Linked DNA regions of Homo sapiens. The protein of the gene in region 1 interacts with the protein of each later gene in a pairwise test. Each region holds a gene or a part of one and is shown in the gene's direction. Other genes may lie near its edges.

Evidence for each region.
Region 2: the proteins of GPSM1 (region 1) and CCDC158 interact in a two-hybrid assay, tested with the Homo sapiens proteins (2 studies listed by BioGRID and IntAct).

What each region holds. Positions count from the first base shown.
Region 1 is NC_000009.12:136,330,513-136,343,110, forward strand, and holds part of GPSM1 (G-protein-signaling modulator 1), read left to right. Parts: intron 1-3,934; coding exon 3,935-4,156; intron 4,157-5,453; coding exon 5,454-5,589; intron 5,590-6,408; coding exon 6,409-6,560; intron 6,561-6,928; coding exon 6,929-7,052; intron 7,053-7,333; coding exon 7,334-7,449; intron 7,450-8,042; coding exon 8,043-8,198; intron 8,199-9,194; coding exon 9,195-9,303; intron 9,304-10,357; coding exon 10,358-10,481; coding exon of another isoform or gene 10,482-10,648; exon of another isoform or gene 10,649-11,326; intron 11,327-12,598. UniProt on the Homo sapiens protein: Guanine nucleotide dissociation inhibitor (GDI) which functions as a receptor-independent activator of heterotrimeric G-protein signaling.
Region 2 is NC_000004.12:76,357,595-76,374,163, reverse strand, and holds part of CCDC158 (coiled-coil domain-containing protein 158), read left to right. Parts: intron 1-2,627; coding exon 2,628-2,747; intron 2,748-4,540; coding exon 4,541-4,738; intron 4,739-6,387; coding exon 6,388-6,870; intron 6,871-11,848; coding exon 11,849-12,038; intron 12,039-16,569.

The sequences.
Region 1 (12,598 bases):
TTCCAGCTCCCGCTGTGCTCCCAGCCCGGTCCTGCGCCTCACTCTCTCCCCTCCCCTGGCCACTGAAGGGGAGTCGGTGTGGTTTTCCCTGGGGGTGTCTGGCTGGGGGATGGGGCAGATAGAGCCAGCTGTGAGCAGAGTCTCTTCAGCATCTGCTCAGGGGCCAGCATGTAGGTGACGGCCTTGGGGAGGGGCAGGTGCCAATTCTGTTAGCAGGGCTGGGACTGAGGGACACGGCTTTCGGGTGGCCGGAGGTAGTAGGAGTTGCAGTGCTGGCTTGGGAACTGGCCTTGGTGATGGCACCCCAGCCACCACGGAGGGTCTGAGGGTTCAGTCTGTTGACGAGGACTGGGCAAGGGAGAGGCATTCTAGGTCCTGCCCCGCCTTTGGCCAAGCTGTCCTGAAGGTGGACAAATGGTCTGGCCTGAGTAGGACCCCTGAGCCCACAAGGCCTCAAGGTAAGGAGGAGAGAGCCCAGGGCCTGAAGACCCCCACCTGTCCTTGGATTCCTGCCTCTGCTCAGACCCCGTGGCCGTCTCAGGGATAAGACCTGCCCCCCCAGTCCCCCGCCTCTGTCAGGTTCCAGCCTCCTCATGGGCCACAGGTGGCTGGAGAAGCTGGGAGCCCAGCTGAGAAGGACGCCGGGGGCTTGGGAAGTTTGAGGAAAGGAGCCAGGCTAGGGGAACGTGGTCCATGCCTCCCAAGCCCCACGACCTGGGGAGCGGCATCCCCCAGGCCCCACGTGGCCCTGACCCCGTCAGACCTGGGGCCCTGTTCGCACCTTGGCCAGTCAGGTGAGGGAGAGCACAGAGGGCCCGGCAGACGTGGGGCTGGCATGGTGAGGACTCTGAGCCCCCCCCCCCCGCTGCCCCATGCTGGCACCGTGGGCTGGTGCCAGGGAGGCTGGGGAGGGGGCCAGGTGGGGTCGGGTGGAGCAGAGGAGGCACAGGGGCCTGGAGAACCGGTAGGCGGCCAGGGGCCACCACTGCGCAGAATTCCAGCTTTGCCCAGCCCTGGGCCAGGCCTGGGGGAAGAGGTGCTGGGCTGGGGGCACTCACACACTCTGGACGCCATTCCTCTTTCCATTCACAAACGTGCCTGGCGCTCCCGAGTGAGCCCGGTCCTGGGGCAGAGCAGCCCCCGCTGGGAACTGGATAAACGTTTGCAGAGGAGTTGGCGGGTGACTGACGGGAGGGCAATGCCGCTGGTCCCAGTCCCTGGAGGAGCACGTTGGACGGGATTACCCCAGGGCTCCCCGCCCCGCTGCTGACGAGGCTGACCCAGCCTCTGAGCTGTCCTTGATCCCTTGATCCACGTCAGGGATTGGGGAGGCCCCCGAGCACCTGCTGGAGGACTGGCAGTCCCCCGCCGAGCTTTAAACCCACCATCCTGGAGGTCAGAGGGCAGGGAAGCCTAAGGCCAGCCCACCCCCCAGGACCCGTGGCCATGGTGGGGCGAGGGCTGGCTTGGGGGAGGAGGGCCTGGGGCCTGGCGATGCCATCCCCTGCTGGGGAGGGCCCGCCTCTGGCCCTGAGCTTGGCGGAGAAGGCCGTGTGCAAGGTGGTGTATGGCGCCCCCCGCCCCCGCCCGCTGCTGCTGCCCGTGGGCCTGGAGCTGTGGCTCTACGTGCAGAAGATGCGAAACCTGCAGAGGAAGAGGTGCGGCGGGCAGCGAGTGGGGTGGTCACGTGGGTGTGGGTGCCAGGGCGTGGTTGGAGGCTGTCTTGGGATGAGTGGAGGGGACACCCACCTGGTGCAGCTGCAGGTGGCTGGCTGCATTGCCTGGATCCCAGATTGGAGGTGCAGAATGACAGAGGCCCATCCGTGCACCCATCCCCGACTTTTAGGCCCAGGCCCTTCCCAGGCCAGAAGCCTCCTTCGCCTTGAGCCTCGGATGCCACGTCTCCGGCTGGAAGGGAGGCGGGAGGTGGCTCCCATCATCAGATCTGCGGAGCAGCAGCGTCTGGGCTCCACAGACACCCAGGCCTCAGGCCTGAAGCCCCTCTCCTCCGATGTTGCCTGGAAGGAGGGGGCAGTAAACCGAGTGAGACCACTTGAAAAGTGGCTGGGTGGGGCAAGTGGGCCTTAATCAGGAAGCCCCGTGCGTGGCGCTGGCTGCAGGATGGGGCTTGGCTGGTTGTCATGGCGACGGTGGGCTCCTGTGACCCACGTGGCATCCGGATGGCCATTCCCAGAGGGATGGGTGAGGTGGCTGTGAGGTGCCTGGCAGGTAGTGGGTGGGAGGGCCTGGCCCTGAGGTGAGAGGATCACTTGAGCTCAGGAGTTTGAGACCAGCCTGGGCAACATAGTGAGACCCCCATCTCTACCAAAAAAAAAAAAAAAAAAAAAAAGCTGGGCATGATGGTGCAAACCTGAAGTCCCAGATACTTGGGAGGCTGAGGTAGGAGGATGGCTTGATCCTGGGAGATGGAGGCTGTAGTGAGCCGAGATCGCACCACTGCACTCCAGCCTGGGCAACAGAGCAAGACCGTGTCTCTATAAAAATAATAATGGTAACATAAGTTTTAAAAATGAAAAATGAAAGCAACAGAAAGCAAACAGGAATGATGGGGCCGGCCTGCAAGCAGCCGAGGCTGAACCCTTCCCCCACTTCTCTGAAATCAGGTCCCTCCTGGGCTCCAGCTGTGCCTGCCACCTCCTGGGGCCCCCCAAGCTGCGCCCTTGCTGAGTCTTTTGTGGCTCTCCGGGGGCACCCTGCAGATGGGGGCCCGCCTGCTCACACTGGCCACCCCATGGCATCTGCTGGGTGTGTCCTCCCCCCGCGACCCTCCACCCAGGGCAGCGCAGCAGCCTGAGGCCCATGTGACCTGTAAGAGTAGGATGGAGGAGGACACCAGGCCCCAGAGCAGGCAGCAGGGAGGTGCGGAGCCGGGCAGCCACGGAGTGACCCCACACTCCTCCCCGGCAGCTGAGTGCCAAGGGCAGCTCCCCAAGGCCCAGGGTGGGGGTCCCTCGGTGAGCAGGGCTAGGGTGGCAGCTGACGCACAGGGTGCTTGGGGGTTGTGCAGGGCCCAGGGTGAGGGGTTTCTTCTCTAAAGTCCCTGCCCGAAGGTGGGGGACCACGGCCAAGCAGGGCGTTGGTGTTCAGAAGAGGGCCTGGCCCTTGGGGTTAGGTGGCGCTCACACGGCGGAGTTCACCTTGGGATGGGGCGCCATCCACATCTTCCCACAGCAGCGCTGGGGGTGGCGGGCAGCACCTGGGAACAGCGGGTTCTCAGGCCTGTCCTGGCTGGCAGCGGCGAGCGCTTAGCTCTGTGGGTGGGGGACCAGGAGGAGAGGGGCTGGGACTGGCTAACCCGCAGCCACACCTCCGCAGCACTGGTCTCCCCTGGAGACTTGGAGGCTGACTGAATCCCCAGGCCCTGGCTGGGAGAGCTTGGGGGTGGGGGAGGAGCCGAGATCAGATCCCCACCCCACCCGACCCCCATGTGGCCTTCACAAGCCCCCACTACCGTCTGGGAGCCTCAGTTGTTCTTGGTGGGAATTAGGGGGGCCTCTCCCAGCAGCTGTGGTCGCTCAGGAGGATGGCTAGGGTGCCTGGCCCCTGCAGCCCGTACCTCTGGGATTTGGGTGAAGGCAGGGTATGGGGGCCACACCCCCTGCAACACCGGCCCCTGGGCCTGAGGGTCTTGCCGGGGTCACAAACTCACACCTTTGCCCCAGTGGCGTTCCTGACCTTGGCCGCACAAGGGGTGGACAGGAGGTGCTGGCAGAGGTGTGCTGGCTGGGGCGCCCTTGGGCCGCACACGTGCTTCCAGGCCTGTATCCCAAAGAGACACTTAGGTCTGTGAGCACAGATGTGGTGTGTGCCCTAGCCCACCCAGGGGCGTCGTCTGTAGTGAAGCCACGGAGGTGCTCCGGCCCCGGGGCGACTTTGCCAGGGCTGGGCCATGACGCCAAGTTCCTCTGCACAGGATGGAGGCGTCCTGCCTAGAGCTGGCGCTGGAGGGCGAGCGTCTGTGCAAGGCGGGCGACTTCAAGACAGGCGTGGCCTTCTTTGAGGCTGCTGTGCAGGTGGGCACCGAGGACCTGAAGACACTGAGTGCCATCTACAGCCAGCTGGGCAACGCCTACTTCTACCTGAAGGAGCACGGCCGGGCGCTGGAATACCACAAGCATGACCTCCTGCTGGCGCGGTGAGTGGGGACGGTCCTGCTGGCGGGTGAGTGGGGCGGCCCTGCTGGCGCGGTGAGTGGGGACGGCCCTGCTGGTGGGTGAGTGGGGCGGCCCTGCTGGCGCGGTGAGTGGGGACAGCCCTGCTGGTGGGTGAGTGGGGATGGCCCTGCTGGCGGGTGAGTGGGGACGGCCCTGCTGGAGCAGTGAGTGGGGCGGCCCTGCTGGCGGGTGAGTGGGGGTGGCCCTGCTGGCAGGTGGACGCTTCCTGTCCTCAGCAGTTACAGTTTGAGGAGGGGGACAGGGCAAGCAGGGTCTAAGGGAACGCAGTGGGGAAGCCCTCACCTGGAGGGCAGCCAGGGCTCTGGGACCCCGGCAGGGAGCTGGGTTTCAGCTGACAGGCGTGAGTGGGTCTGTGTGTCTGCGTGTGAGAGCCTGGGCTGTGACCCGCGTGCTGTGCGTGAGCACTCGTGACTGTGTGTGGCCCATCTGTGATCCTGTGTGGCTCAGAGCCCCACCCTTTCCCTGGCCCCAGGCCCCAGGCCCTGAGCCCCGGGCCCACTCCCAGCCACTGCTCAGTGAGGTGTGGTCCTGCCCTGGGGGCTGTCCCTGCTTTCCCATGGACCCCAAGCTCCCACTCACAGCCTCCTTCCTGCCTGGCGTCATCCACTCCCCAGTCTCCCCAACCTACTCCCCGCCGCCCCTTGGGGTCTTGGGGTCTCCAGTCGGGTCCAGCCCCCAGGCCGTGCCTCACGGGAGCACGCTTCCCTTGCCTCAGCCCTGCCCAGCGCCCTCCCCCTCAGCCCTGCAGCTGCCCTGACCTCTCAGCAGGGCAGAGCTTCTTGGAGCAACCCTCCCGCACTGGCCAGTGAGCTCACACCTGCTCCTCAGCACCCAGCTCAGTGTCTGGTGGGCATGCACCAAACGTCCTCTGAATGAGTTAGCAGGAAGTTAGTTCTCCACCATCAGGCCCCCCAAGTCCTCCCCGGATCCTAAGAGCTGCAGACCCCAGCCCCCTGCCCCAGGCCCAGGCGTGAGGTCCTGTGTGTAGCTCCTGGCACCTGTGTGCAGCCTGTGTGGTGATGGGCAGGAGCCTGTGCCCCAGACACAGCCCAGCAGAGCCCATACCCAGGGCTGCCCTCGGGCCTCACTTGCCCGGCCTGTGGGCCCCTGCCCAGTATCACCTCAGGGGTTGCAGGCTCCTGTCCACTCCATGCTGGTCCCTGAGGCCCAGCTACCCCACCCCATGCTCAGCCTCCCCCCGGGCCCAGAGGCCTGACCAGTCCTCAGCCTGACCCCTCACTCCTCCCTGCCATCCAGGACCATCGGTGACCGCATGGGGGAGGCCAAGGCCAGTGGAAACCTGGGAAACACACTCAAGGTCCTGGGGCGCTTCGACGAGGCTGCCGTCTGCTGCCAGCGGCATCTGAGCATCGCCCAAGAGCAGGGAGACAAGGTGGGGGCTTGGTCCGGGGCTGGGTGTCTCCCACCCCTGCACCGGCCTGCGTCCAGATCCGGGATAGGGGCGGGCGGGTGACTCACCACTCATCCAGCTCCTCATGGGAGGGATGACAGGGAGGTCGGTCCCCTAGATCCCGAGTGACTCAGGAGAGTGTGGGCCCCCAAAACAGGCCCCCCCAGCCCATGCTGACACTGCAGCCCAGGCCCCCACCTTCCACCCTCAGTTCTGCCGCCCCTCTCGGTGACCTCCCCCCGAATCCCTCCACACCCCCAGTCACTCACTCCCTGGGGGGCCCAGCGGGAGGCAGGGGGTGGCTCTGGGCTGCGGCAGTGGGAGGCCGATTTCAATGGCGGTGGTGACAGCAGGAAGAGTGGCTCCGTCTCCGCTTGTGCTGGACCCGAGACAGGCTTTGCTGACCTCCCTCCATGGCCCTGTGAGGCGAGAAAACCAAGGCTGGGGGGACGTGACTTACCCCCCGTCACACAGCTGGAGGTGACCAAGGGGGCTTGAGGCCGCAGCATCTGGTCCCAGCTGGAGCTTTCAGCCTCGGTCATCAGAGGACAGAGCTGAGGACCTGGCACCCTGGCCACGCCAATCCGCAGAGGAGGGAGGGATGGTGAGGGAGGGCGGAGGCTGGCTTCCCGGGTGTGCCGTCCTCAGGCTTCCGCCCCTGCCTTAGTGTCTGTGACTCAGTGGGAGCCCCCAAGGCCCTCGCTGTCGAGGGCTGGGACAGTGAGGACACCGGTGTGCCGGCTCTGCACATCGTGTGGGGGGCCGTGGAGGCATGCCCCCAACCCTCCGTACTGCCCACAGGTTGGGGAGGCGAGGGCCCTCTACAACATCGGGAACGTGTACCACGCCAAAGGCAAGCAACTGTCCTGGAACGCCGCAAACGCCACGCAGGACCCCGGGCACCTGCCGCCCGATGTCCGAGAGACCCTGTGCAAGGCCTCCGAGTTCTACGAGTGAGTGGGGCAGGGCCAGCCCAGGGACCGGGGCTGGCCTGTGCGTTTCTGAGCTCCACAGACACTTCCAGACCCCCGACCCCAGCCCCATACCTCCCGACAGCTCCCAGGGCAGTGACGGCCAGGTCCGCCCACCCCCGCTTTCTCAGCTGCTGGCTCCCTCCCCTGAGCTTGCCCCTGTCAGGGACTTGGGGGACATGACCAAGCCCCAGGTCTCAGAGCTCGAGGACCCTGGAGCCTACCCTAGCCACCCTCTTTCCAGGGCATGGCCCTGAGGCCGCATGGAGGCCGCTACTCAGCTCTTCTAGCCTGGGGTGGGTGAGGACATGGGCTGGGAGGGACACGGCTCAGAGGCACTCGGCCCCCAGGAGGAACCTGTCCCTGGTGAAGGAGCTGGGCGACCGTGCGGCGCAGGGCAGGGCCTACGGCAACCTGGGCAACACCCACTATTTGTTGGGGAACTTCACAGAGGCCACGACCTTCCACAAGGAGGTGAGCCGGGCAGGGTGACAGGGTGGAGGGGCCGGGCTGCTGCAGGGGCAGGGCTGAGCCACCCTCTTGGCGGTCCCTGAAAGGGCAGGGTGGTATGGCCAGGCAGCAGGCCCGCCCCACCGAGTCCTGGCCTCATCTGCACTTGGTCCTGCAGCTGCTAGCTGCTCACCCGGACACACAGATCTCTGGCCGGCCACCTGGGCAGGGAGGCAGCCCCTGTCCGCCCACGTCAGGCCCCGGGGCTGCGCCATGACCACCTGGCCTCCGGTGTGTCTCCGCAGCGCCTGGCCATTGCTAAGGAGTTTGGAGACAAGGCAGCCGAGAGGAGGGCCTACAGCAACCTGGGGAACGCCCACGTCTTCCTGGGGCGCTTTGACGTGGCCGCCGAGTACTACAAGTAGGTGGTCCCCACAATCTCCCAGGGAGACAGCAGGCCGGGGGGGCTGGATGCCAGGCCAAGGAAGTGCCCGCCCCAAGCTGGGAATCTGACTGCCTCCCCTCCCCTCCCCAGAAGGCAAGGTGGGGTTCTAGGCTGCCCCGGGAAGGGCAGACGGACAAAGCTCATGGGGAGGCAGGCGGTGGGGGAGCCGGCCTATGGGAGGTCTGGGCCATCTGCCTCCTGGCCTGAGCCACAGAGCAGCGCCTGCCGGGTGGAGCCCGGCTGTCAGCACGGGGTCCTGTGCCCAGCCCTAAACTTAACCCCATCTCAGCCTGAGCAGTGGGCACAGCAGTCTCAGGTCCTCCGGGGAGGAGTGGTGGCGGCTCAGGGTGGTCAGGCAACTTGCCAGAGCCTGGCAGGACCCCCCGTCCCCCTGGGGCCAACAGTCCCGCTCTGTGGCCATGTGAGGGTGGGGATGAAGCTGGACCCCAGAGAGGCCCCAGTGGGATTCCGGGGCAGGGGACCATCGGGCAGACTGCGTCCCCATTCTTACCTTCCACCCCTCACCCTGGAGCCCTCCTCCTGGGGGCTGACCCTGCCACTCTGCACAGGAAGACGCTGCAACTGTCTCGGCAGCTCAGGGACCAGGCAGTGGAGGCGCAGGCCTGCTACAGTCTGGGCAACACCTACACGCTGCTGCAGGACTACGAGCGCGCGGCCGAGTACCACCTGCGGCACCTGCTCATTGCCCAGGAGCTGGCCGACAGGTGCGTGGGCGCGGACGCGGCGGGCAGACCCGGCCCGGCCCACAGGCTGAATTACCGCGGCCCAGGCGAGGTGGCCTGGGTCCCATCCCCTGCTCTGCCACTGACCATGCTGTGACCCAGGAGTGGCAACGCCACTGTGGGGACTGAGCCAGACAGTGTGGACATTGGGCCGGCCACTGACCCCTGGCACAAGCGGGTGGGGTCCCCCTCCCATCCCTCAATTCGCCACCCTGTTGCCCCCACCACCCATGTATGTATGTAAATATCACTCTCTGGAGAGAGACAGGCTGGCAAACCACAGGCCCCTAAGTACTGTCTTGTGTGCAGGTCTGGGGTGGGTGGTGGCCGGAACAAGGGGCTCAGAGCCACAGGCCTGTGGCCTTTCACAGGCAGCAGAGAGGAGAGGTCTTTTGAAAGGCTGCCCTGCCTGGAGGCTTAAAAGTGGCCCAAGGTTTTCCTTTGTGGCGTGGTGAGGAGAATGTTCTGGAATAGACAGAGGTGCCGGTTGCACAGCATGAATGTACAAAATGCCAGTGGATCGTCCACGTGAAAATGATCAAATTCCTGTTAGACGCATTTCCCTCCAATATAAAAACAACCCCCTCACCCAGTGACTTGGAGGGTGCCCGTAAGGGTGGAGGGAGTGCAAGGGAGGAGGCTTGCCGGCCGCCAGGGGGCGAGCGAGGCCAAGGGCCCAGAAACTGCCCGCAAAGGCAGAGCCGGCCACAGGCCAGGTTGCTTGGACTCTGCGCTAATCCTTTTAATGGGAAGAAAAAAGGCAGAGCTGATTGGGGCTTATGCTTGAAGGTGGCAGAATTTGTGGGAGGTCCAGCTGGGGGCATTATCCTGTCATCCGGCCAATGCCCCTTGGGCCTGGGGGCCCCTGATGACCCTCGAAGCCAGGGTCATGCTGGGGCCGTGACCACCAGGGGAGGGGCTGGGGCTGGGGGCTGGCCTGGAGAGGGCGGGTATGAATCTGGTCTCCCTCTCTGGCAGAGTGGGCGAGGGCCGGGCGTGCTGGAGCCTGGGAAATGCCTACGTGTCCATGGGGCGCCCAGCGCAGGCCCTGACCTTCGCCAAGAAGCACCTGCAGATCTCCCAGGAGGTGAGCCAGGCCTGCCCCCAGAAGTCCCGGGCACTGCCCAGCCCACTCCAGACGGGCCGGGTCCCCTCTGCCCCGAGCGAGCGTGTGCGTGCCTGGGCCCCCCTCATCCTTTCAGGGCCATTGCAGCTGCCTGGTCCTTCCGAGGCCTGGTGATGACATGTCTACCATGCCCGGGGGTTTTTCCTGCAGCCCCCAGCTGGTGCCTTCCTGGGCAGCTGCGTCTCCTCCTCCTTGGAGAGTTTGCACAGGGTCTCTGTGGGCTCCGCCCATCAGCGCCCTCCTACTGTGGTCAGGGCGGAACATCACAGATGAACTGTGGGCCTCCCGGCTCCCGGCCTGTCCTTACATCACCCACTCCCACGCCACCTCCCTCTGCACACCCCGAGCCTGTTCATGCTAAAGACGGTGCCAGCCCCTACTGACCACCATAGACCCATGTAGGAGGTGGCCGGGTGGGGAGGCCTGCAGGTGCCCAGGTGAGGGTGGAGAGGGGCGGGCATGGGAAGGTCAGCAGAGCCCTCGTCTGAAGAGCTTCACTGGCAGCCAGCAGGCAGCCCCCGTGTCCCTCTGAGTGCAGGCTACAGCCTCCAGGGCCTTCCAGGGCTCCATGTGGCCCTCCCCCCAACCCCATGCCACCTCTCTTCTGCTTGACTTAAGCAAACAGTTAGTTCCTGAGTGATGTGGATGTTCCCGGGAGGGTCCCCCACAGAGCCTCGGCGCACAAGGCAGGGGCTGAGAGAGGTGCAGCCGGGCGGGGCCGGGCCCCTCGCGCACCGGAGGGCACAGGCCCAACCGCCTGGGACCCCAAGCATCTCTGGGGTGAACTAGGGGCTGTTGAGGACCTGTGGGGCCACCTCACCCAGGGACAGACCCCCAGACTCCACCTCCGGGTCCACAGTGAGTCCTGGTTCCCTCAGAGGCCCAGGGGTCAGTGACCAGTTCAGGTCACTCAGAAGGTCAGGGACGGGTGTACTGGGGGCCATTAAGGTCCCCTTGGAGCCCACAGCAGGGCCCCCAGCCACACCTGCCCGCTCCGCCACCCCACTCGCCGCAGATCGGGGACCGCCATGGGGAGCTCACGGCCCGCATGAACGTGGCGCAGCTGCAGCTGGTGCTCGGCCGCCTGACCAGCCCGGCAGCCTCAGAGAAGCCTGACCTGGCCGGCTATGAGGCCCAGGGTGAGTTCCAGGGTTGTGGGGGGGTCTTGCTCCCCACAGGCACGGACCGCATCAGGAGCTGCGGAGGGGTGGGATCGAGGCCAGGCCAGCATGGCGGAGGTGGCAGCCGCCAGAAAATGGCGCCTACAAGCCAGTTCTTCTTGGCCTCAGGGACAGCACAGGCCTGAGGTTCACCCTGAGCCCTTCCCACCCGCATCCTGAGTGGCGCTGCAGGGCTGCTGGATGAAGGACAGGAGGTGGTCGCCTGTTGCCCCACTGGCTGCTCCAGGGCCTCCACCCCCACCTCCCCCTGGAGCCCTCGGTGCAGGGAGGGCTTCTGTCCTCAGACCCAAGTAGGAGAGGGCTGCTGGGAGGCGAGAGGGCATCAGCCAGAGGGCTGGGCTGGGCTGGGCTGGGCTGGGCTGTGGGAGCCCTATGTGCCTGGGGCAGTAATCAGGCAAGGCCCAAGGCCATGCGAGGCCACCGTGGTGACCTCATTCATGGACCGCTGGTCGTCCCATGCCGGTCAGCAGTGCTGCAGACACAGGACAGAACGTCCCCTGCAAAGCGAAAAGACTAATAGGTGCCAGGGGGGTGGTGCCAGGTTGGGCCGACTTCCTGAGGTGGCTGGCAGGTGGGTGAGGGGCAGGCTTGGGGGGAGCAGCTGCCCCACCCATGTGTCCCCCACTCCCAAAGGTCTTGAGTTTGCCAGCCCCCGAGAAGGGATGCCTGCCTCCCAGAACGTACCTGGTGCCCCCCAGGCCTGCTAAGGACCAGGCTGGGAACACCAGGCTTGGATGTGGTGCTGGGCTGCCGGAGTTTCTTTTTCTTATCTTATTTTTAATAATTAAATGTTTTTATAGAGATAGGGCCTCACTATGTTGCCCAGGCCAGTGTCAAACTCCCAGCCTCAAGCGATCCTCCCATCTCGGCTTCCAGAAGTGCTGGGATTATAGGCGTGAGCCACCGTGCCCAGCCATCCCCTGGGTTTTTGTGCCACAGTGCTCATGGGTTTCTGACGATGACCTCTCCTGGGAAATTGGGGGTGCATGTCAGCCACCGCAGAGGCTGAAGACAGAGGAAGGAGCAGAGGCTCTGGGGCCCTCAGCGAGTCCGTGGGACAAGGTGCTGTGACCGATGGCAGTGGGTGGGTAGGGGATGGGCTGGAATGTGCCCCCCAGGATGTCCAGGCCTATTTCTACCCATGGCCGGGGTTTCCTAAGGGTGGGGAGCTCTGCCGAGAGCTCCTGCGGCACCCCTAGTACCCTCCTGTGTCCCTGGCTCGGCACTGCCACCATCTGGGACCCCAGCAGCAACTGGCAGCAGGGCTGGGAGCAGCTCTGGAAAGGCTCCGCGGAGGCTGCGGCTCTGGGTCCTCCCGACGTTTTCTTTCTTGGAGCCAAGGAAAAGGGGGGCCGGAGTGGGAGGACGCTGGAACAATGCAGCTTCTGTCCCTCTCTGGCTCCTCTGTGCCGCCCCGAGTGCGGGACCCCTTCCAGCCGGCCGGACGCCTCCTCCCCCAGGGCTGGGGAAGGGTCCTCCTCCCCGCCCAGGGCAGCCCGGCAGCCTGGCTGGGGCCGCCGCCCGGCTGCCGCTGTGGGAGGCAGGCTGCACACCTAGAGCCTGGGCGGCCCTGGGTGAGACCCCGGCTCAGCTGAGCCTGGCAGGGACAGGGCCTTGAGGCCGGGAGTCTGGACCCGGCGTTGCGGGTTGGGGGCGCCACGGAAGGACCCACGCAGCCTCCCCATTCGGCAGGTGCGGAGGGCGGGGTGGATCTGCGAGCTGCGGGAGGGGAGGGGGGTGCAGAGCCGCGCTAGAGCCTGGCCGTGCGGAGGGGGCGCCAGGGCTGGGGGCACAGGAGGGCGCTGCCCAGCGGGGTGTGGGCAGGGAGGAGGAAGTCGTCTGGAGGTGGGGCTTCAGCCCGGCGGGGACGCGGTGGGGCGTGGCCTTGCTGTTGTGGGCGTGGTCCATGGGGGCGGTGGGCGTGGCAGAGGCTGGTGGGTTTGGTGTCCCGTTGATAAACACAAGGAGACTTACGTGCGGCTGGAGGACAAAGAGCCTTGGCGCGGCTCAGTCAGCGTATTAATCTCACCGCCCTCTGCTGGCCCCTCCCCAGCCAGCAGAGAAGCCCCAGAAGT
Region 2 (16,569 bases), on another chromosome or scaffold:
GTTTTTTTAAGAGAGTGTCTCACTCTGTTGCCAAGGCTGGAGTGCAGTGGCACGAACATGACTCATTACAGCTTCAAACTCCCAGGCTCAAGCGATCCTCCCACCTCAGCCTCCTGACTAGCCAAAACTACAGGCATGCACCACCATGCCAGGCTAATTTTATTTTTATTTTTGTAGAGATGGGGTCTCACTATGCTGCCCAGGCTGGTCTCGAACTCCTGGCCTCAAGTGATCCTCCCACCTCAGTCTCCTGGAAAGTACTTCTTTATTAGATTAATAGAGTCTAGGAATACATTTTAGACAGTGATCTAATATTTTACGTGTACTTAATTCTGGTGAAATACTTTTTATACATAGCATGCAGCCAGATACAAAGTCAGTTTAGGAATATAGCCAATATAAATATTAAAGTCTATACTCTGATTTCTGTAGGTAAATGGGAAACTGATAGTCCTATATTAGTACTTTCTTAGTCATATATGTATATGTGGATATATATATAACTTCTATTCCTTATGATTATTATTAAAGAGAGATGTGTGTATGTATGTATAGATAATATAATTCAATATGTGTTGAATAAGTGAAGATCTTTAAAAATAAATAGTAAATAGTAAAACTAGAAAGTTCTCAAGAAAAAGTTAGTCTTAGTCATATGTTCTCTAGTTAAGAAAGTTTTATCATAGTACATCATCCAAACCAGGTTTTATTATTGACAGTAGATTGGAAACCTACTAAATAGCCACCTTAAAGCTAAGAAGGAATATGCACCATTTATGCAGACATGAAAGATTTCCTATTACTAGAAAGTAGATGATAAAATAGTAATGTAGATACCTACTTAAAGTTAAGATATCACCATATAACTAAGTATCAACACGTTCTCATTGTTTTAATATCTTATTATTTAAGTTATGATATTGTGTGGCTCAGCTAAAATCTAAACCCTTAGTCTCCACAGTCTGAGATCCTAGCCTCTTAGCATACGCTGAACCTAGACATAAAGAACTATAGAGGCCGGGCGCGGTGGCTCACGCCTGTAATCCCAGCACTTTGGGAGGCTGAGGCGGGTGGATCACCTGAGGCCAGGAGTTCGAGACCAGCCTGGCCAACATGGCGAAACCCCATCTCTACTAAAAATACAAAAATTAGCTGGCCATGGTGGCGGGCACCTATAATCCCAGCTACTTGGGAGGCTGAGGCAGGAGAATCATTTGAACCCAGGAGGCGGAGGTTGCAGTGAGCCGAGATCGTGCCATTGCACTCCAGCCTGGGCGACAGGGCGAGATTCCATTTCAAAAAAAAAAGAACTATAGAAACGCTATTAACAGTCATGCACTTTATGGCATGTGTCATAGAAATGCATATTCAAACAGATCAAACAGCTGCCTTGTCAGAATAAAATGCACTTTAACATCCTCTAAAATTGGTACTTTTATTCCCATTTTATATTAATAGTTGAACAAAATGAGGGTTAGAATGGTTAAATAAATTGTCCTACTGTAAATATAAATATATATAAATTCATCCTTTAAAAAAGTAGTGGCTATAAAATAATGACAATAGCTAATAACTTGTTACCATTCATTCTTTTATATTCAATGCCTTTTATTACCGAAACTTTGATATTCTGAAGCAAAATAGCTCTTCTAAGTACAATACAGTTCATTTATTTAGGCTCTGCAGCATGTTGTTTATGCCATATCAAGCTTCCTTTTTTTGAAACAGTTTTGCTCTGTCACCCAGGCTGGAGTGCAGGGACACAATCATGGCTCACTGCAGCCTTAACCACCCAGTCTCAAGCAGTCTTCCCACTTCAGCCTCCCAAGTAGCTGGGACCCCAGGTGTGCACCACCATGGCCAGCTAACCTTTAAAAAAATATTTTTTGTAGTGATGGGGTCTCCCTGTGTTGCCTAGGTTGGTCTTGAACTCCTGGGCTCAAGGGATCCTCCTGCCTTGGCCTCCCAAAGGATTACAGGCATGGGCCATTGTGCCAACCCTCAAGCTTTCTTAAATACCAAATTATAGAACATGTCTTCACAGAAGATAAATCTTGAATAGTATGAAAACAGGAGACAGATGTATTACAGGCAATTCCCAAATTCAACAGTACTAAATATTTCATTTTGTCTAATTTCCCTGGCTAAACTCAGCATAGATTTTCTTTAAAAAAAAAAAAAACTTTACAAGACACATCACAATACACTTTTTTTTTTTTTTTTTGGAGATGTAGTTTCACTTTTGTCACCCAGGCTGAAGTGCAATGGCACGATCTTGACTCACTGCAACCTCTGCCTCCCGGGTCCAAGCGATTCTCTTGTCTCAGCCTCCCAAGTAGCTGGGATTACAGGCGCCCACTACCATGCCTGGCCAATTTTTGTATTTTTAGTAGAGACGGGATTTTGCCATGTTGGCCAGGCTGGTCTCAAAATCCTGACCTCAGGTGATCCACCCGCCTCGGCCTCCCAAAGTGCTGGGATTACAGGCATGAGCCACTGCACCCAGCCTCACAACGAACTTTTATTTTTGTTCTCAAAATAATACCATTTGTTTTCCAAAGTCTATATTTATTTTATATTACCCACTGTCATAATCAGACACTGTTCAATTTGTACTTTCCTTTCAGACAGAAGAGCTGGAAAAGCAGTTAGTCCTTGCCAACTCAGAGCTAACTGAAGCCCGGACAGAGCGTGATCAATTCAGTCAGGAATCTGGAAATTTAGATGATCAACTTCAAAAGCTGTTGGTAAGATTATGCTTTAAAATATGAATAAGACTAATTCTGGGAAGTTTTTCACTGAAATATATCACAAAACTCGTTTCCTTTATAAAATTACAAATTTACAAAATATTTGTGCATACATGCAATAGATTATTTTAGACACAATTCAAGTTTTGCATATAAAATATGATATTCTGTATACTTAACTTTTTTCTTAAGCAGAGCTATTACAGTATTAGGTGAAGGAGATCTTGACATAGCCATAGTCTTTCAAGTAGATACCATATTCCATTAAATTGAAGTAGTGTTACACGTTCATTTTAAGGCCAAATAACATTCAAAACACATAAAAATTGTGTATATAGAAATTTGGAATGGACGGTTAGGTGAAGTTGTTTTAAAAGAAAAGGACAGTATGATTGTGCTCATAATGAAGCCACTCTGTCCTCTGTTAGAGGAACTATAGGATGAGAAATTTAGGAAAGGAAATGTTTGGAATCCCCTTTTGCGGTATTAGTGGTATAACAGAATAAATTTCTCGGCTTACCAAACCCCATTCCAGGGAATGGTGCTCTTTGCTGGTAAAGCCATCCTTTGCAGGCTGACAAGGGTTTGATGAGCTGAGGTAAGGATAGAACTGAGAGCTGTGTAGAGAAGCTCTTAATCTTGGCATAATTCTTCAGTTCTTTACCTAACATTTGCATGTTTTTCAGTGTTCTCCTATCTAATTTGAAAATCTTGGAGACTGAATGTCTGAAAGATCCTCAAACCTGGCCTCCCTTTTCATTCTTACCATCACCACCTCTCGTTCAACCCCTCATTACTCATTGCCTGAAGCATGGCAGTCTCCTTACTGATGTTCCCAACTCCAGTTTTTCTCCTCTTCACTCCTTCCTGTAAAGGGCTGCCGCATACATCTCTCTAAAATGTAGCTCCGATGATGTCACTGTTCAACTCAAAATTACTTTCTCCATAAAGTCAGACACCCTCCCTTTCAATACTGTTCATGATCCATCACCCTGCTAACCTTTCCAATCCTTTCTCTCTACCCGGACCCAGTGCACCAAGCAAACACACAGGCCCCTTTCCTGTCCCTTCTTCCTAATCTCTACATCTTCAGGTCTAACTCAAATACTATCCTGAAGCATTTTGATCCCTTTAGTGAGATTCTGTCTGCTATTCCTTATCTTTGTTCCTTTAATGAAAAACCACTTCCAGTTACTTATGTCTATGTCTTAACTTTCTCTTGGATCCTAAGTCATTTGAGTGTAGATATATCTTTGTTTTTACTAGTCTGACTAGAGTTTTTGCTCCTATTCAACACTATGTATTTTTTAAGTGACTGAAAAGGGAGGTAATTCTATTCACAGCCCAGATGCTACTCCAATTCCAGTACCAGCCACTATTCTGCCATCTCTCCATTACTTATCATTTTTCCTTTACTTATCATTTTTCCTTCATGCTTTTGAGCATTTCTTTATTATAGGAGCATACCTGATGTGAGACATAATGTCTTTCTTAGAAAATGCAAGACTTAAAAACAGGATGACTTTTAAAATCTACTGTATTTTCCTTTTCATTGTATATTATTTGAGGTCTAGTCCCTCGAGATAGACTAGTAATGCTAGAAATTTTAAGCAAAATGTTAACTTATTTTTCTTGGAAATAATTGCTCTTAAGCCATTAAAAAGGAATCAGATTCCAAAATCAAAGGTGTCTGAAATCACATAAAAACTCCAAATATGATATAAAGACAATATGTTTTATCTTAATTATTTAATAGCAGGGAGGAAAAAAGCATTCCTCTCTTTTTTTAGGCTGATCTACACAAAAGGGAGAAGGAGCTGAGTCTGGAGAAGGAGCAGAATAAGCGTCTGTGGGACCGAGACACAGGCAACAGCATCACCATTGACCACCTGCGGCGGGAACTGGACAACCGGAACATGGAGGTGCAGCGCCTGGAAGCCCTGCTCAAGGCCTTGAAGAGCGAGTGTCAGGGCCAGATGGAGCGGCAGGTCAGTGCCTGCACAGGCTGTGCCATCGCCAAACAATCTCCTCTGGGGAAATAAATATTTTATGTCTAAATAGAGCTTTTTATTTTTAACATATATGGACCTAAAATGGCTCCTAAAATAAAGCTATGGATTCTGTGAGCAATTTATGAAAACCTGATACTTATTTTTCATTTTATTTCATTTTTTGTTTATTTATTTATTTATTTATTTTTAGATGGCGTCTTCCTCTGTCACCCAGGCTGGAGTGCAGTGGCGCGATCTCGGCTCACTGCAACCTCCACCTCCCGGATTCAAGCAATTCTCCTACCTCAGCCTCCCAAGTAGCTGGGATTACAGGCGTGTGCCACCATGCCCAGCTAATTTTTTGTAGTTTTAGTAGAGATGGGGTTTCACCATGTTAGCCAGGATGGTCTCGATCTCATGACCTCATGATCTGCCCACCTCAGCCTCCCAAGGTGCTGAGATTACAGGCGTGAGCCACTGCGCCCGGCCTATATATAGACACTAATTAAACTAAATGTGTCAAGCTTTATCTCACTTGTACATTGTTGAAGAACTAAACTCTTATCCCATTGCCTTTTCACGTTTACCTAAAAATTGGTAACCTAATAATTGCTTATTTCTGCTGCAGAGAAGCATCAAATTATTGGGCAGCCTGAGAAGCAACAGGGTTGAAGGTTTCTAACAGATTTTTTTGCTTTATTTTTCTCCCAAAAGAGACTTGCCTCTCTTTCCCCAAGTCTCATCACTGATTGAGACTGATGAGTGCATTCCATTCCGGTGCACCCTCCAGTAGCAAAACGTGGACTGCCTTCTTAATAGCAGTGTACTTTCTGTGCTAGGAAGACATGGTTCTAATGCCAGTTACTGCCACAGGGACATAAAAAGCATCCCACAAAAGTGTAAGCTTCTCAGAATGTGAAAGCAAACCAAGGGACTGGTCTTGGCTTAGACCCAGGCAAAGCCATTAACCTACTCTCTGGCTTAACCTGGGCAAGAAGAAAGATGAAAGGACCAACTGGAAGTTAGAATTTTCAGCTTTTCCAAACAAGGATCAGAGAATATGAATGTGTGTGTGGATAAAAGCCATTATTCATTTTTTTCCTCAGAGGTAGAATTAAAGGTAAAGTTGGAGGGAAATTAAAAATAAGGGGTAGTTATTGTAAATTCCGCCACCCTTCCCCCCATTGCCAGGGTTATCTTAATCTAAATCAGTACAGAAAACATCCACAGAGGAAACTTCCCAAGACTGCACTCTAGAACACCGTTGTGGAGGAGCGTTATTATTTAATTAAGCCCTCTCCACCTTGGTCTAATTAGCATATGTCAGTCTTACATATGTTATAAGAGCTAGAGTTCTGACAGCAAAATGATTGAGTTAATTTAACTAGACATGGCTGGGTACAGTGGCTCATCCCTGAAATCCCAGCACTTTGGGAGGCCGAAGCAGGAGATCATTTGAGGCTGGGAATTTGAGAAGACCAACCTAGGGAACACAGTGAGACCCCCATCTCTTAAAAAAAAAAAAAAAGATCTTACTAAACATTGCCTAATTCATGATTTCATGCTTTTAAGTTAACTTGTATCTCTTGAGGTTGCCTATACCTATCCTCCCAAATCTATGAAATTCTCTTTTCTTTAACAATCAGATGGCAGCAATTCAAGGAAAGAATGAAAGTCTAGAAAAAGTATCCTCCTTGACTGCTCAGCTTGAATCCACCAAAGAGATGCTGCGCAAAGTAGTAGAAGAGTTGACAGCCAAGAAAATGACTCTGGAGAGCTCAGAGAGGACAATATCGGACCTGACAACTTCTCTCCAGGAAAAAGAGAGAGCCATCGAGGCTACCAATGCAGAGATCACAAAGCTCCGCTCCCGGGTGGACTTGAAATTGCAGGAGCTGCAACACTTGAAAAATGAAGGGGATCATCTCAGAAATGTGCAGACAGAATGTGAGGCCCTCAAACTGCAGATGACAGAGAAGGACAAGGTGATCGAGATTCTGCGACAGCAGATTGAGAACATGACACAGCTGGTGGGCCAGCATGGACGAACTGCTGGAGCTATGCAAGTAGAAAAAGCTCAACTGGAGAAAGAAATTAATGATAGGCGGATGGAACTAAAGGAACTTAAGGTCTGTAGAGTTTTTTTGTGATTTAACTTCTGAAATATCATTTATTAGCAGGTATGACCTGTACTGAAAAGTGGTTCTTGGTATCTGTGGACACTCTGAAACTGTTGGAAGGTGTTTGTTTCTATGTGTATATGTGTGTTTTTGTGAGAAAGGATAAATACTTTTATCAGATTATAGAAGGAATGGATGACTCGAAAATGGCTCAAAATCACGGGTACAAAAGAAAAAAGATCAGAAAATCTATGAAGTCTTTCCTGATACCACAGGAAAGTATTTTCTCCCTCTTCAGACAGACCTAAATTTGAACCCCGTCTCTCACTACTTAGTTACAGTGAAACATTGGACTGTTTGCTGAATCTTGGCTTCGATATCTGATAAACAAAACCAAACCAAAAAGTAAACAAAACAAAAAACTCCCAACAACCTGTTGGGTTACTGTGAGGCTTAAATCAGAAAGTATATATCAAGGAATGAGCCTATTAATAGTTTCTGGCTATTTAATAATTTAAAATTTAAATAACTTAATAATTTAAAATTTAATAAATATTAGTTTCTTTCCCCTGTTTTGGTCTCCTTCTGAACTTTCTCATACTTTATTTGTACCTGTTAAAACCTGGTTCACATTCTATATTGCCGTGTGTGTGTGTGTGTGTGTTTGTGTGTGTGTTTATGTAGCAGTGTCTCCTTTTCCCTACAAGATTGTAGACTTCTTCAACCAGGGTACACATCTTATTAGCCTTTGTACCTCCTGCCCCATATTTTTGTGCCTTGCACCCAGAAGGTGCTCGATAAATACTTATCAAAATTTAACACAATTTAATGGGTTTTTTAAAAAAATTGATTTCATAGGATTAATGTCACCTTTATCTCTGACTTGGTGAGTAGTAGGAGACAAATCACATATACTGTAGATGCTTCAGTTTCCTCCTTCTAAAAATAGGGCCAGCAATAGATAATTATCCATCTTATGGAAATAAACAAGTTCATTGCATTAAAAATAGAATTTTCTATTGCTTAAGTTTTTACCTGATTATATACATTTTTAAATGGCCAAACTCACCATGAAAAGGGACATAGAAAGGATTCTCAATGGCCAGCCCTACAATGAAACCCTTAGAACAGGTGTGATGCAGGGCAGAGCATATCAGAGGAGAAAGGATGGTTGTTCTACCTTGCTTAGGAAGATCACTAGTGGATTGCTAGTGTGTTAAGGTTCTAAACAGGAGAATCCCACTCTTATACTCTAAAACTTAAATCAATTTAATCCTCACAAAACCTTATGAGGGAGGCACTATTATTATCCCATTTTACAGCTGAGGAAACTGAGACACAGAGAGTTTAACTTTCTGGAGAGCAGCACTACCTTGTGGTTTGAACCTAGGCAGCCTAAGTAGATGTTACTGTGCAGTGGTTCTCAGTGAGAACCGGAATCGCCTGGAGGGCTTTTTAAAGCATGGACTGCTGGCCTGCTCCCAGAGTTTCTGACTCAGTAGGTCTAGGATGGGGTGTGAGATTTGGTGTTTCTGAACAAGTTGCCAGATGACGTGGATACTGCTGGTCCTGAGAGCATCCATCAGGATCTGTGTTAGTGCCTCAAAGGAATGTGGAGCTCCTGACTAGAGGGCCAGTGAAAGCTTCAGAGAGAGCTGGGAACCTGAAATGGGCAAAAACTAGGCAAAGAGAAGGAAGGATGGCATTCCAAGCCCGGGAAGAAGCCTAGTCTGTAATTTAGCCTAGAGATGGTGTGGGAGACATTAAAGGTTTAGGGGTAGGAAGGAGGGGGTAACATGAAGAAGACAGTGTTGGAAGTGGATTAATCTGGCATCAGTATGCAGAAGTGGCTTGGAGAGAGTAAAACTAATTTTCAGTTCCTAAATATGGAGCTGGAGCAGCTTCAGGGAATAATTTCCTAGGTAATTAGAGTTTCACACAGACACAAAGAACATAAGTTTAAAACTCAAGTCCTAATGCCACATCCACTTCCCTCTGTGATCTGATAAGAAAAAAAGGTGGGGGAATCATAGCTGTAGAAGGTATGGTTTCTCTCCTGGTTTCTGTCCCCTCTTCAGAGTGGGTACTGCACACATTGACAGCAGAGAAGCAGAGTGACTTTTATTTCAATAACTGTGGGTCCCCAGAGCTAGACCTTTCTTAAAAACAAATAAATAATAAGACTAAGAAAGGACTGAATTCTATCAGCTGGCCTCAAGAGGTGGAACAGGAGCAGCACTCGTCCTATGTGTGTTGTGATGCCTCAGGTTGTCCCAGGGAAAGCCCTCCCCGTCCCTTACTGCATGAGGTCAGCTGGATTTAGTGTGACAGTTGCCAGGAGTGGCTAGGCAGAGATCAGATAGCCCAGATTAGGGCCTTTACTGCCCAAACCCATCACAGGCGGGCAGTGAGACAAGCCTGGGGCTCCCCACCAATCCTTTTTGAACAGCCAAAAGCTTGTCATGTGGCTATATTTCAGATGTATCATTGGTCTCCACAGTTAAACTGCTGCTATAGCAGTCAAATTGCATCTGCCAGGATACTAAGGCCAGTAGGGCGATAATTTGGGGAAACAATCTGATGACCAAAGAAAGTCAATATTTTTTTCAAATGTCACTTATTCGGAAGGATCTAGGTCAGTTCTGTCCACCAGAAATACAGTGTAAGTGACATATATAATTTTAAGTTTTCTAGTAGACACATAAAAGAAATGTGAAATTAATTTTAATAACATTTTATTTAACTCATATTCAAAATATAGTGTTTTTAATATTATAATCAATACAACAGATCACCAAGATATTTTATATTCTATTTTTATACAAAGTCTTTGAAATCTGGTGTATATTTCACACTTACAGCACATAACTTAGTTTGGCCACATTCCAGGTGCTCCAGAGTCATGTGCAGGTATTGTGTTAGACGACACAGACCTACACCCTGGGAAGAGAGGGGTCCTCCTAGGAAGCCTTACCAACACAGATAGAGACCAGTTAGGAGGCACTGTGGCAATCCATATGCAAAGTGATGGCAGTCCAGACCTGCAGGTTGGGCAGGATTTGATCAACAATTGGGTATGAGGGGCGAGGGACAGGGAAAGACATGGTGACTTTGTGAGTTCAAACTTAGACTGGCAACATGGTAGTGCCTCTAACAGAGAAGAGTCAGAAAGGATTGTAGGGGAAGGCCCTCTGTGAAGAAGGAATAGGAATGTTTGAGTCAGAGTTTGCAGAAGCATGCCATGCTGGGGGTTTCTGACAGTTAGTTGGAAACGCCGAATTAGAGTTGCCATATTCACATTCCCTACCCTAGTCAAAGGACCAGATACTTTCACCACCACAAACCACCCCAGTCTAAGCTCCCACCTCTCTTGTTTGCTCTTCCAGTTGCCTTCTCACTGGTCTCCATGCTTCTCCCCCTACCCCCACGCCAACCACTGTTTTCCTTCATACCAGAGCCAGAGTTGTATTTTTAAATTGTTACACTACATCACTCTCATACTCAAAACTGTCCAATGACTTCCTGACTCACTCACAATGCATGCTCAAGTTCTTACATTGCCTCTGAGCAACCTGATCATTCCCTTGGCCCCTCTCTGACTTCATCTCCTGCTTACCCCAAGCTCACTTCACTCCAGCCCTACTGATGTCCCTGCTCTTCCCCAGACACGTTACCTGTACACAGAGCTCTTCCCAGACTGTCCACGTGTCTTGTCCTTATGCTCAGGAGCACAAGGAGCATCTGCTTAGATGTTACATCATCAGAGAGGCCTTTCCTTGCCAACTGTGGCAGGGTCCCCAAGACCGACCCCAGGTTTGATGATTCCCTAGGAGGACTCGCCAGACTCAGCATATAATCATACACAAGGCTAGGATTTATTACAGTGAAAGGATACAAAGCAAAATCAGCAAAAGGAAAAGGCACACGGGGCAAAATCCAGAGAAAGCCAGGCATGAGCTTCCAAGAGCCTTCTCCGAGTAGAGTTATGCAGGACATGCTTACTTCCTACTCCACCCCCTGCCCCAGCAAGACACCGTGACAACATCTGTCAAGTGCTGCTAACCAGAGAAGCTCATTAAAGCCTCAGTGCCCGGGTTTTTATATTGGAGTTTGGTCCCATAGGCCCCTCTACCTGGCAGGTATCCAGATTCCACGTTCCCAGAAGGAAAGCAGGGGTTCAGCATGAACACATTGTTTGCACAAACAGTTTAGGCACACTGAGCCACTCTTATTAGGGTGGTGGGAACCCTCCCAAAATCCAAGTTCCCAGACGACAGTCAAGGGCCAACCTTGTAAGCGGCCTTTTTGAGGAGAGCACCCAAACCTGCTATGTGAACTCTTTCTGCACACCAGCTTACCTCAAGTAGCAACCCCTCCCTTGCATTCATTCTGTACCCCTCACCTGCTTTTATTATTATTCTTGCCACTTCTCTTACCTGACATATTAAATATTTGTTTGTTTTCTTCTCTTCTTACTAGAGGAGGACATGAAGACAAAGACATTGTTTTGTTTATTGCTATCCAGGGCCAGGACTAGGGTGAGGTAACTGAGGTGCCCAGGTTAGAGGCCCTCACCTAGCTGCTTCACTTGCATTACCCTAGTCATAGCCCTGCTTCTATATCCCTTGCTTGTAAAATAGTTCCTGCCACAAAGAAGGTTCTTAATATGTATTTTTTGAGTGAATGGAGATAGAATAGGAATAATGAAGGGTTGTTGCAAGCAATACTAGGAATTGACATCTAAGGTTAAAAGAAAGTGAAATATTTTCCCACTTTCTATTGATGCTTTATAATAAAATACAAATTTAGTGTCCTGGGAAGTAATGAAAAGATAATAAATATAGATGGAATACAGATAGGAGGCAGAAAAGGATATTAAGTAGGAGACTGTTGTCAGATTTTAGGACTGTGTTAGCAGCTATCAATTATAACTATACATGTACATATTTTTTACTTCTCTATCCTTTGTATTTATCCATATATTTAGATATTAAAAGATAAAAAAGATGCAAAGATCCGGGAGCTTGAGGCCAGAGTGAGTGACTTGGAGCTGGAAAAGGTGAAGCTGGTGAATGCAGGCTCTGAGCGGCTCCGTGCAGTGAAGGACATCAAACAAGAGAGAGATCAATTATTAAATGAGGTGAAAACAAGTAGGAGTGAATTAAACAATCTTTCAGGTATGTTGCTTCAGCACAAATCCTACTAAAAAATAAGAGTCTTAGCAGTGAAGCCAATGTAGACCCTAGCACAATTGCAAAAGAAGGGTGTCTCACTCACATGACAAACATGAATAGTTATGCTGCCCCCATGGAGTTATTCATAGCATGAAATCTCATAGTTTTCATGAAGAGTTCCCACATCTTACACTTACTGACCTTAACTTTAGTCAGCCCTCAGTGTACTGGAAATTCTGTACTGAATTTCTAAGAGAAGTGTGAGGTGTCCAGAGTCCAGGCTTCCAAAAGGAAAACAGGTGTTCACATAAATCACATTGTCTGCACAGTTTTGTGTTTATGAAAGTGGAAAACCTTGAGTCCTTGGAGTCAAATAGCTTGATTAGAAGTTTACTAATGAAGTGACATGTGAAAATAGACATGTGAATTTATTGACAGGAAAAATCCATGGCCTTATATTAAACAGTGAAACACTCCAGTTTATGGTTGGTATGTGTATTAGTCCCTTCTCGCATTGCTGTAAAGAACTACCTCAGACTGGATAATTTATTTTATTTATTTATTTTTGAGACAGAGTCTCACTCTGTCCACCAGGTTGGAGTGCAGTGGCGTGATCTCAGCTCACTGCAAGCTCCGCCTCCCGGGTTCATGCCATTCTCCTGCCTCAGCCTCCCAAGTAGCTGGGACTACAGGCGCCCACCACCACGCCTGGCTAATTTTTTGTATTTTTAGTAGAGATAGGGTTTCACTGTGTTAGCCAGGATGGTCTCGATCTCCTGACCTCGTGATCCACCTGCCTCAGCCTCCCAAAGTGCTGGGATTACAGGCATGAGCCACCCCACCCAGCCCAGACTGGGTAATTGATAAAGAAAAGAGGTTTAATTGACTCACAGTTCTGCAGGCTGTACAGAAAGCATGGCTTGGAGGCCTCAGGAAACTTAAAATCGTGGAAGATGAAGGAGAAGCAAGCACATATTCACATGGCAACAGGAGAGAGAGAGACAGAGAGAGAGCACACAAAGGGGGAGGTGCTACACACTTTGAAACAACCAGATCGCATGAGAACTCACTCACTGTCATGAGAACAGCAAAGGGGAAATCCGCCCCCATGATCCAGTCACCTTCCACAAGGCCCCTCCTCCAACACTGGGAATTACAACAGGACATGAGATTTGAGTTGGGACACTGAGCCAAACCATATCATTCTGCCCCTGGGCCGTCCCAAATCTTATGTCCTTCTTACATTTCAAAACACAATCATGCCTTCCCAATGGTCCCCCAAAGTCTTAACTCATTCCAGCATTAACTCAAAAGTCCAAGTCCAAAGTCTCATCTGAGACAAGGCAAATCACTTCTACCTATGAGCCTATAAAATAAAAAACAAGTTAATTACTTCCAAGATACATGGAGGGTACAGGCACTGGGTAGATGTTCCTGTTCCAAAAGAGATAAATTGGCCAAAGCAAAGAGGCTACAGGGCCCATGCAAGTCTGAAACCCAGCAGGGCAGTCATTAAATTTCTAAGCTTTGAAATAATCTCCTTTGACTCCATGTCTCACATTCAGGGCATGCTGATGTAAGGGGTGGGCTTCCAAAACCTTGGGCAGCTCTGCCTCTGTGACTCTGCAGGGTACAGCCCCCATGGCTGCTTTCATGGGCTGGCACTGAGTGCCTATGACTTTTCCAGGCACATAGTGCAAGCTGTCAGTGGATCTACCATTCTGGGGTCTGGAGGACAGTGGCCCTCTTCTCACAGCTCCACTGGGCAGTGCTCCAGTGCAGACTCTGTGTGGGGGCCCCAACCCCACATTTCCCCTCTGCACTACCCTAGTAGAGGTTCTCCATGAGGGCTCTGCTCCTGCAGCAGACTTCTGCCTGGACATCCAGGCATTTCCATATATCCTCTGAAATCTAAGTGGAGGCTCCCAAGCCTCAACTCTTGCCCTCTGTGCACCCACAGCCCCAACATCACATGGAAGCTGCCAAGGCTTGGGGCTTGCACTCTGAAGCAACAGCCTGAGCTGTACCTTGGCCCCTGTTAACCAGAGTTGGAACTGGAGCAGCTGAAATGCAGGGCACCATGTCCCAAGGCTGCACAGTGCAGCAGGGCTCTGGATCTGGTTCACTAAACCATTTTTCCCTTCTAGGCCTCCAGGCCAGTGAGGGGAGTGGCTTCTGAGAAAGTCTCTGAAATGACCTGGAGACATTTTCCCCATTGTCTTAGCTATGAACATTTGGCTCCTCTTTACTTAGCAAATTTCTGCAGCCTTGAATTTCTCCCTAGAAAATGGATTTTTCTTTTCAACTGCATGGTTGGGATGCAAATTTTCCAAACTTTTATGCTCTACTTCCCTTTTAAATATAAATTCTAGCTTCAGGTTATTTCTTTTTTAATGCAAATGAGCACAGGCTTTTAGGAGCAGCCAGGCCACATCTTGAACACTTTGCTGCTTAGAAATTTCTTCTGCCAGATACCCTAAATCATCTCTCTCAAGTTCAAAGTTCCACAGATTCCTAGAGCAGGGGCACAATGCTGCCAGTCTCTTTGCTAAAGCATAGCAAGAATGATCTTTACTTCATTTCCCAGTAAGTTCCTCATCTCCATCTGAGACTTCTTCAGCCTGGACTTCATTGTTCATATCACTGTCAGCATTCTGGTCACAACAATTTAACAAGTTTCTAGGAAGTTCCAAACTTTCCCACATCTTCCTGTCTTCTTCTGATCTCTCCAAACTGTTACAACCTGTATCTGTTACCCACTTGCAAAGCTGCTTTCATATTTTCAGGTATCTGTAGAGCAGTATCCTACCTCTCTGGTACCATTTTTCTGTATTAGTTCATTTTTGCATTGCTATAAAGAACTACCTGAGAATGAGTAATTTGTGAAGAAAAGAGGTTTAATTGACTCACAGTTCTGCAGGCTGCACAGGAAGCATGGCTGGGAGGTCTCAGAAAACATAATCATGGTGGAAGGTGAAGGGGAAACAAGCACATCTTCACATGGTAGCAGTAGAGAGAGAGAGAGAGAGAGAAGAGGGAGGTGCTACACACTTTCAAACAACCAGATCTCATGAGAACTCACACACTGTCACAAGAACAGCAAGGGGGAAATCCTTCCCCATGATCCAATCACCTCCCACGAAGCCCCTCCTCCAACACTAAGAATTACAACAGGACATGCGATTTGGGTCAGAACACAGAGCCAAAGCATATTAGTATGGTATGAAGTATCATGTACTTCATAAAGTCAGAAGTTACTGAGCATTTACTATGCAAGACACTGTGGTAGAACCTGGAAACCCCACAATGAAGCTCACAGTCTAGTAGGGAGATAAACCTAGATAGAAATGGGTGAATAACCAGTGTGTGAGGCACAGTGAAAGTGTATTGAGTACAAAGATAGCACAGAGGATACAGAATTTACCTCCTGTAGGAAGTGACATCTGTACTGGGTTTGAAAGAGGAAAAGGAATTCAGCAGGTGAAAAAGGGGTGCAAGGGACATTCCAGGCAGAGAGAACATTATGGGCAAATGCATGAAGCCATGAAATATCAAAATGTGACCTCAGAAGTATTAGCTGGAGCAAAAGTGAAACGAATGAGGGCTAAGAAATAAGGCAGAATAGATAGGTAGAGCCGGGTAATGTGGAGCCCACAAAAGATATTAAGTAGGAGATTTTTTGTCAGATTTTAGATGGACTGTGTCAGTAAGTAAATTAGAGAAAAGAAAAGCAGACCAAGCAGTTAAGGAGGATTTTTGCAGTCGTCCCAGATAAATAGAATGAGGACTTGAATTAAGGCAGTGGCAGTGAGAATGGAAGGAAAGAATTAAGGATATTTTTGGAGGTTAAATCAACAGCACTTAGTGGTTGGAGGGATTAAGTGTAGGTTTCAGGATTTTAGTTTGTGGTATTGGAAAAGCAATGTAAGCAACTGGGAGAGGGAACCAGAAGGAAAGGCAGGCTTGAGGGCTGGAGGATGAGATGTAGGCACTGTGAGGCAGTTGGTTTCAGGTGGCACGAGGACATCTACATGGAGATGTCTGGACAAATGGAGCTGGAGCTTTGATCCTTTTCTATATAAATCTAATCATATAAATAGATACATATAAATAAATATGTGTGTGTGTGTGTGTGTGCACACATGTGTGTATTGTAGTATATCAAATGATGAGTTTGTGCCAAGTATTTTCACAGATACTGGAGATAAGTCAGATAAGACAGATGGCAGCCTCAGGTTACTTATAGTGTCATGGAGATTCATCTACCAGCAGATGGTGGTTAAATCTACTCTAGTGAACACGGTCATCCAAGAAGAAGGTTTAAGATGAGATAACTGCAAACTAATTATAATGTTTGGGAAAAAACAATGAGTAATAAGTGGGTAGAGGAGGAATAGGATCCACCCAAGCAGATTAAAAAGAAAGGGTCATATCCCTGGAATTGTGTATGTACATCTCATTTCTGTAACAAAGGAAGATGTAATTAAATGACTTCTCTTCCAGTTCTAAAATTCTGTGATCATTAATTACAAAT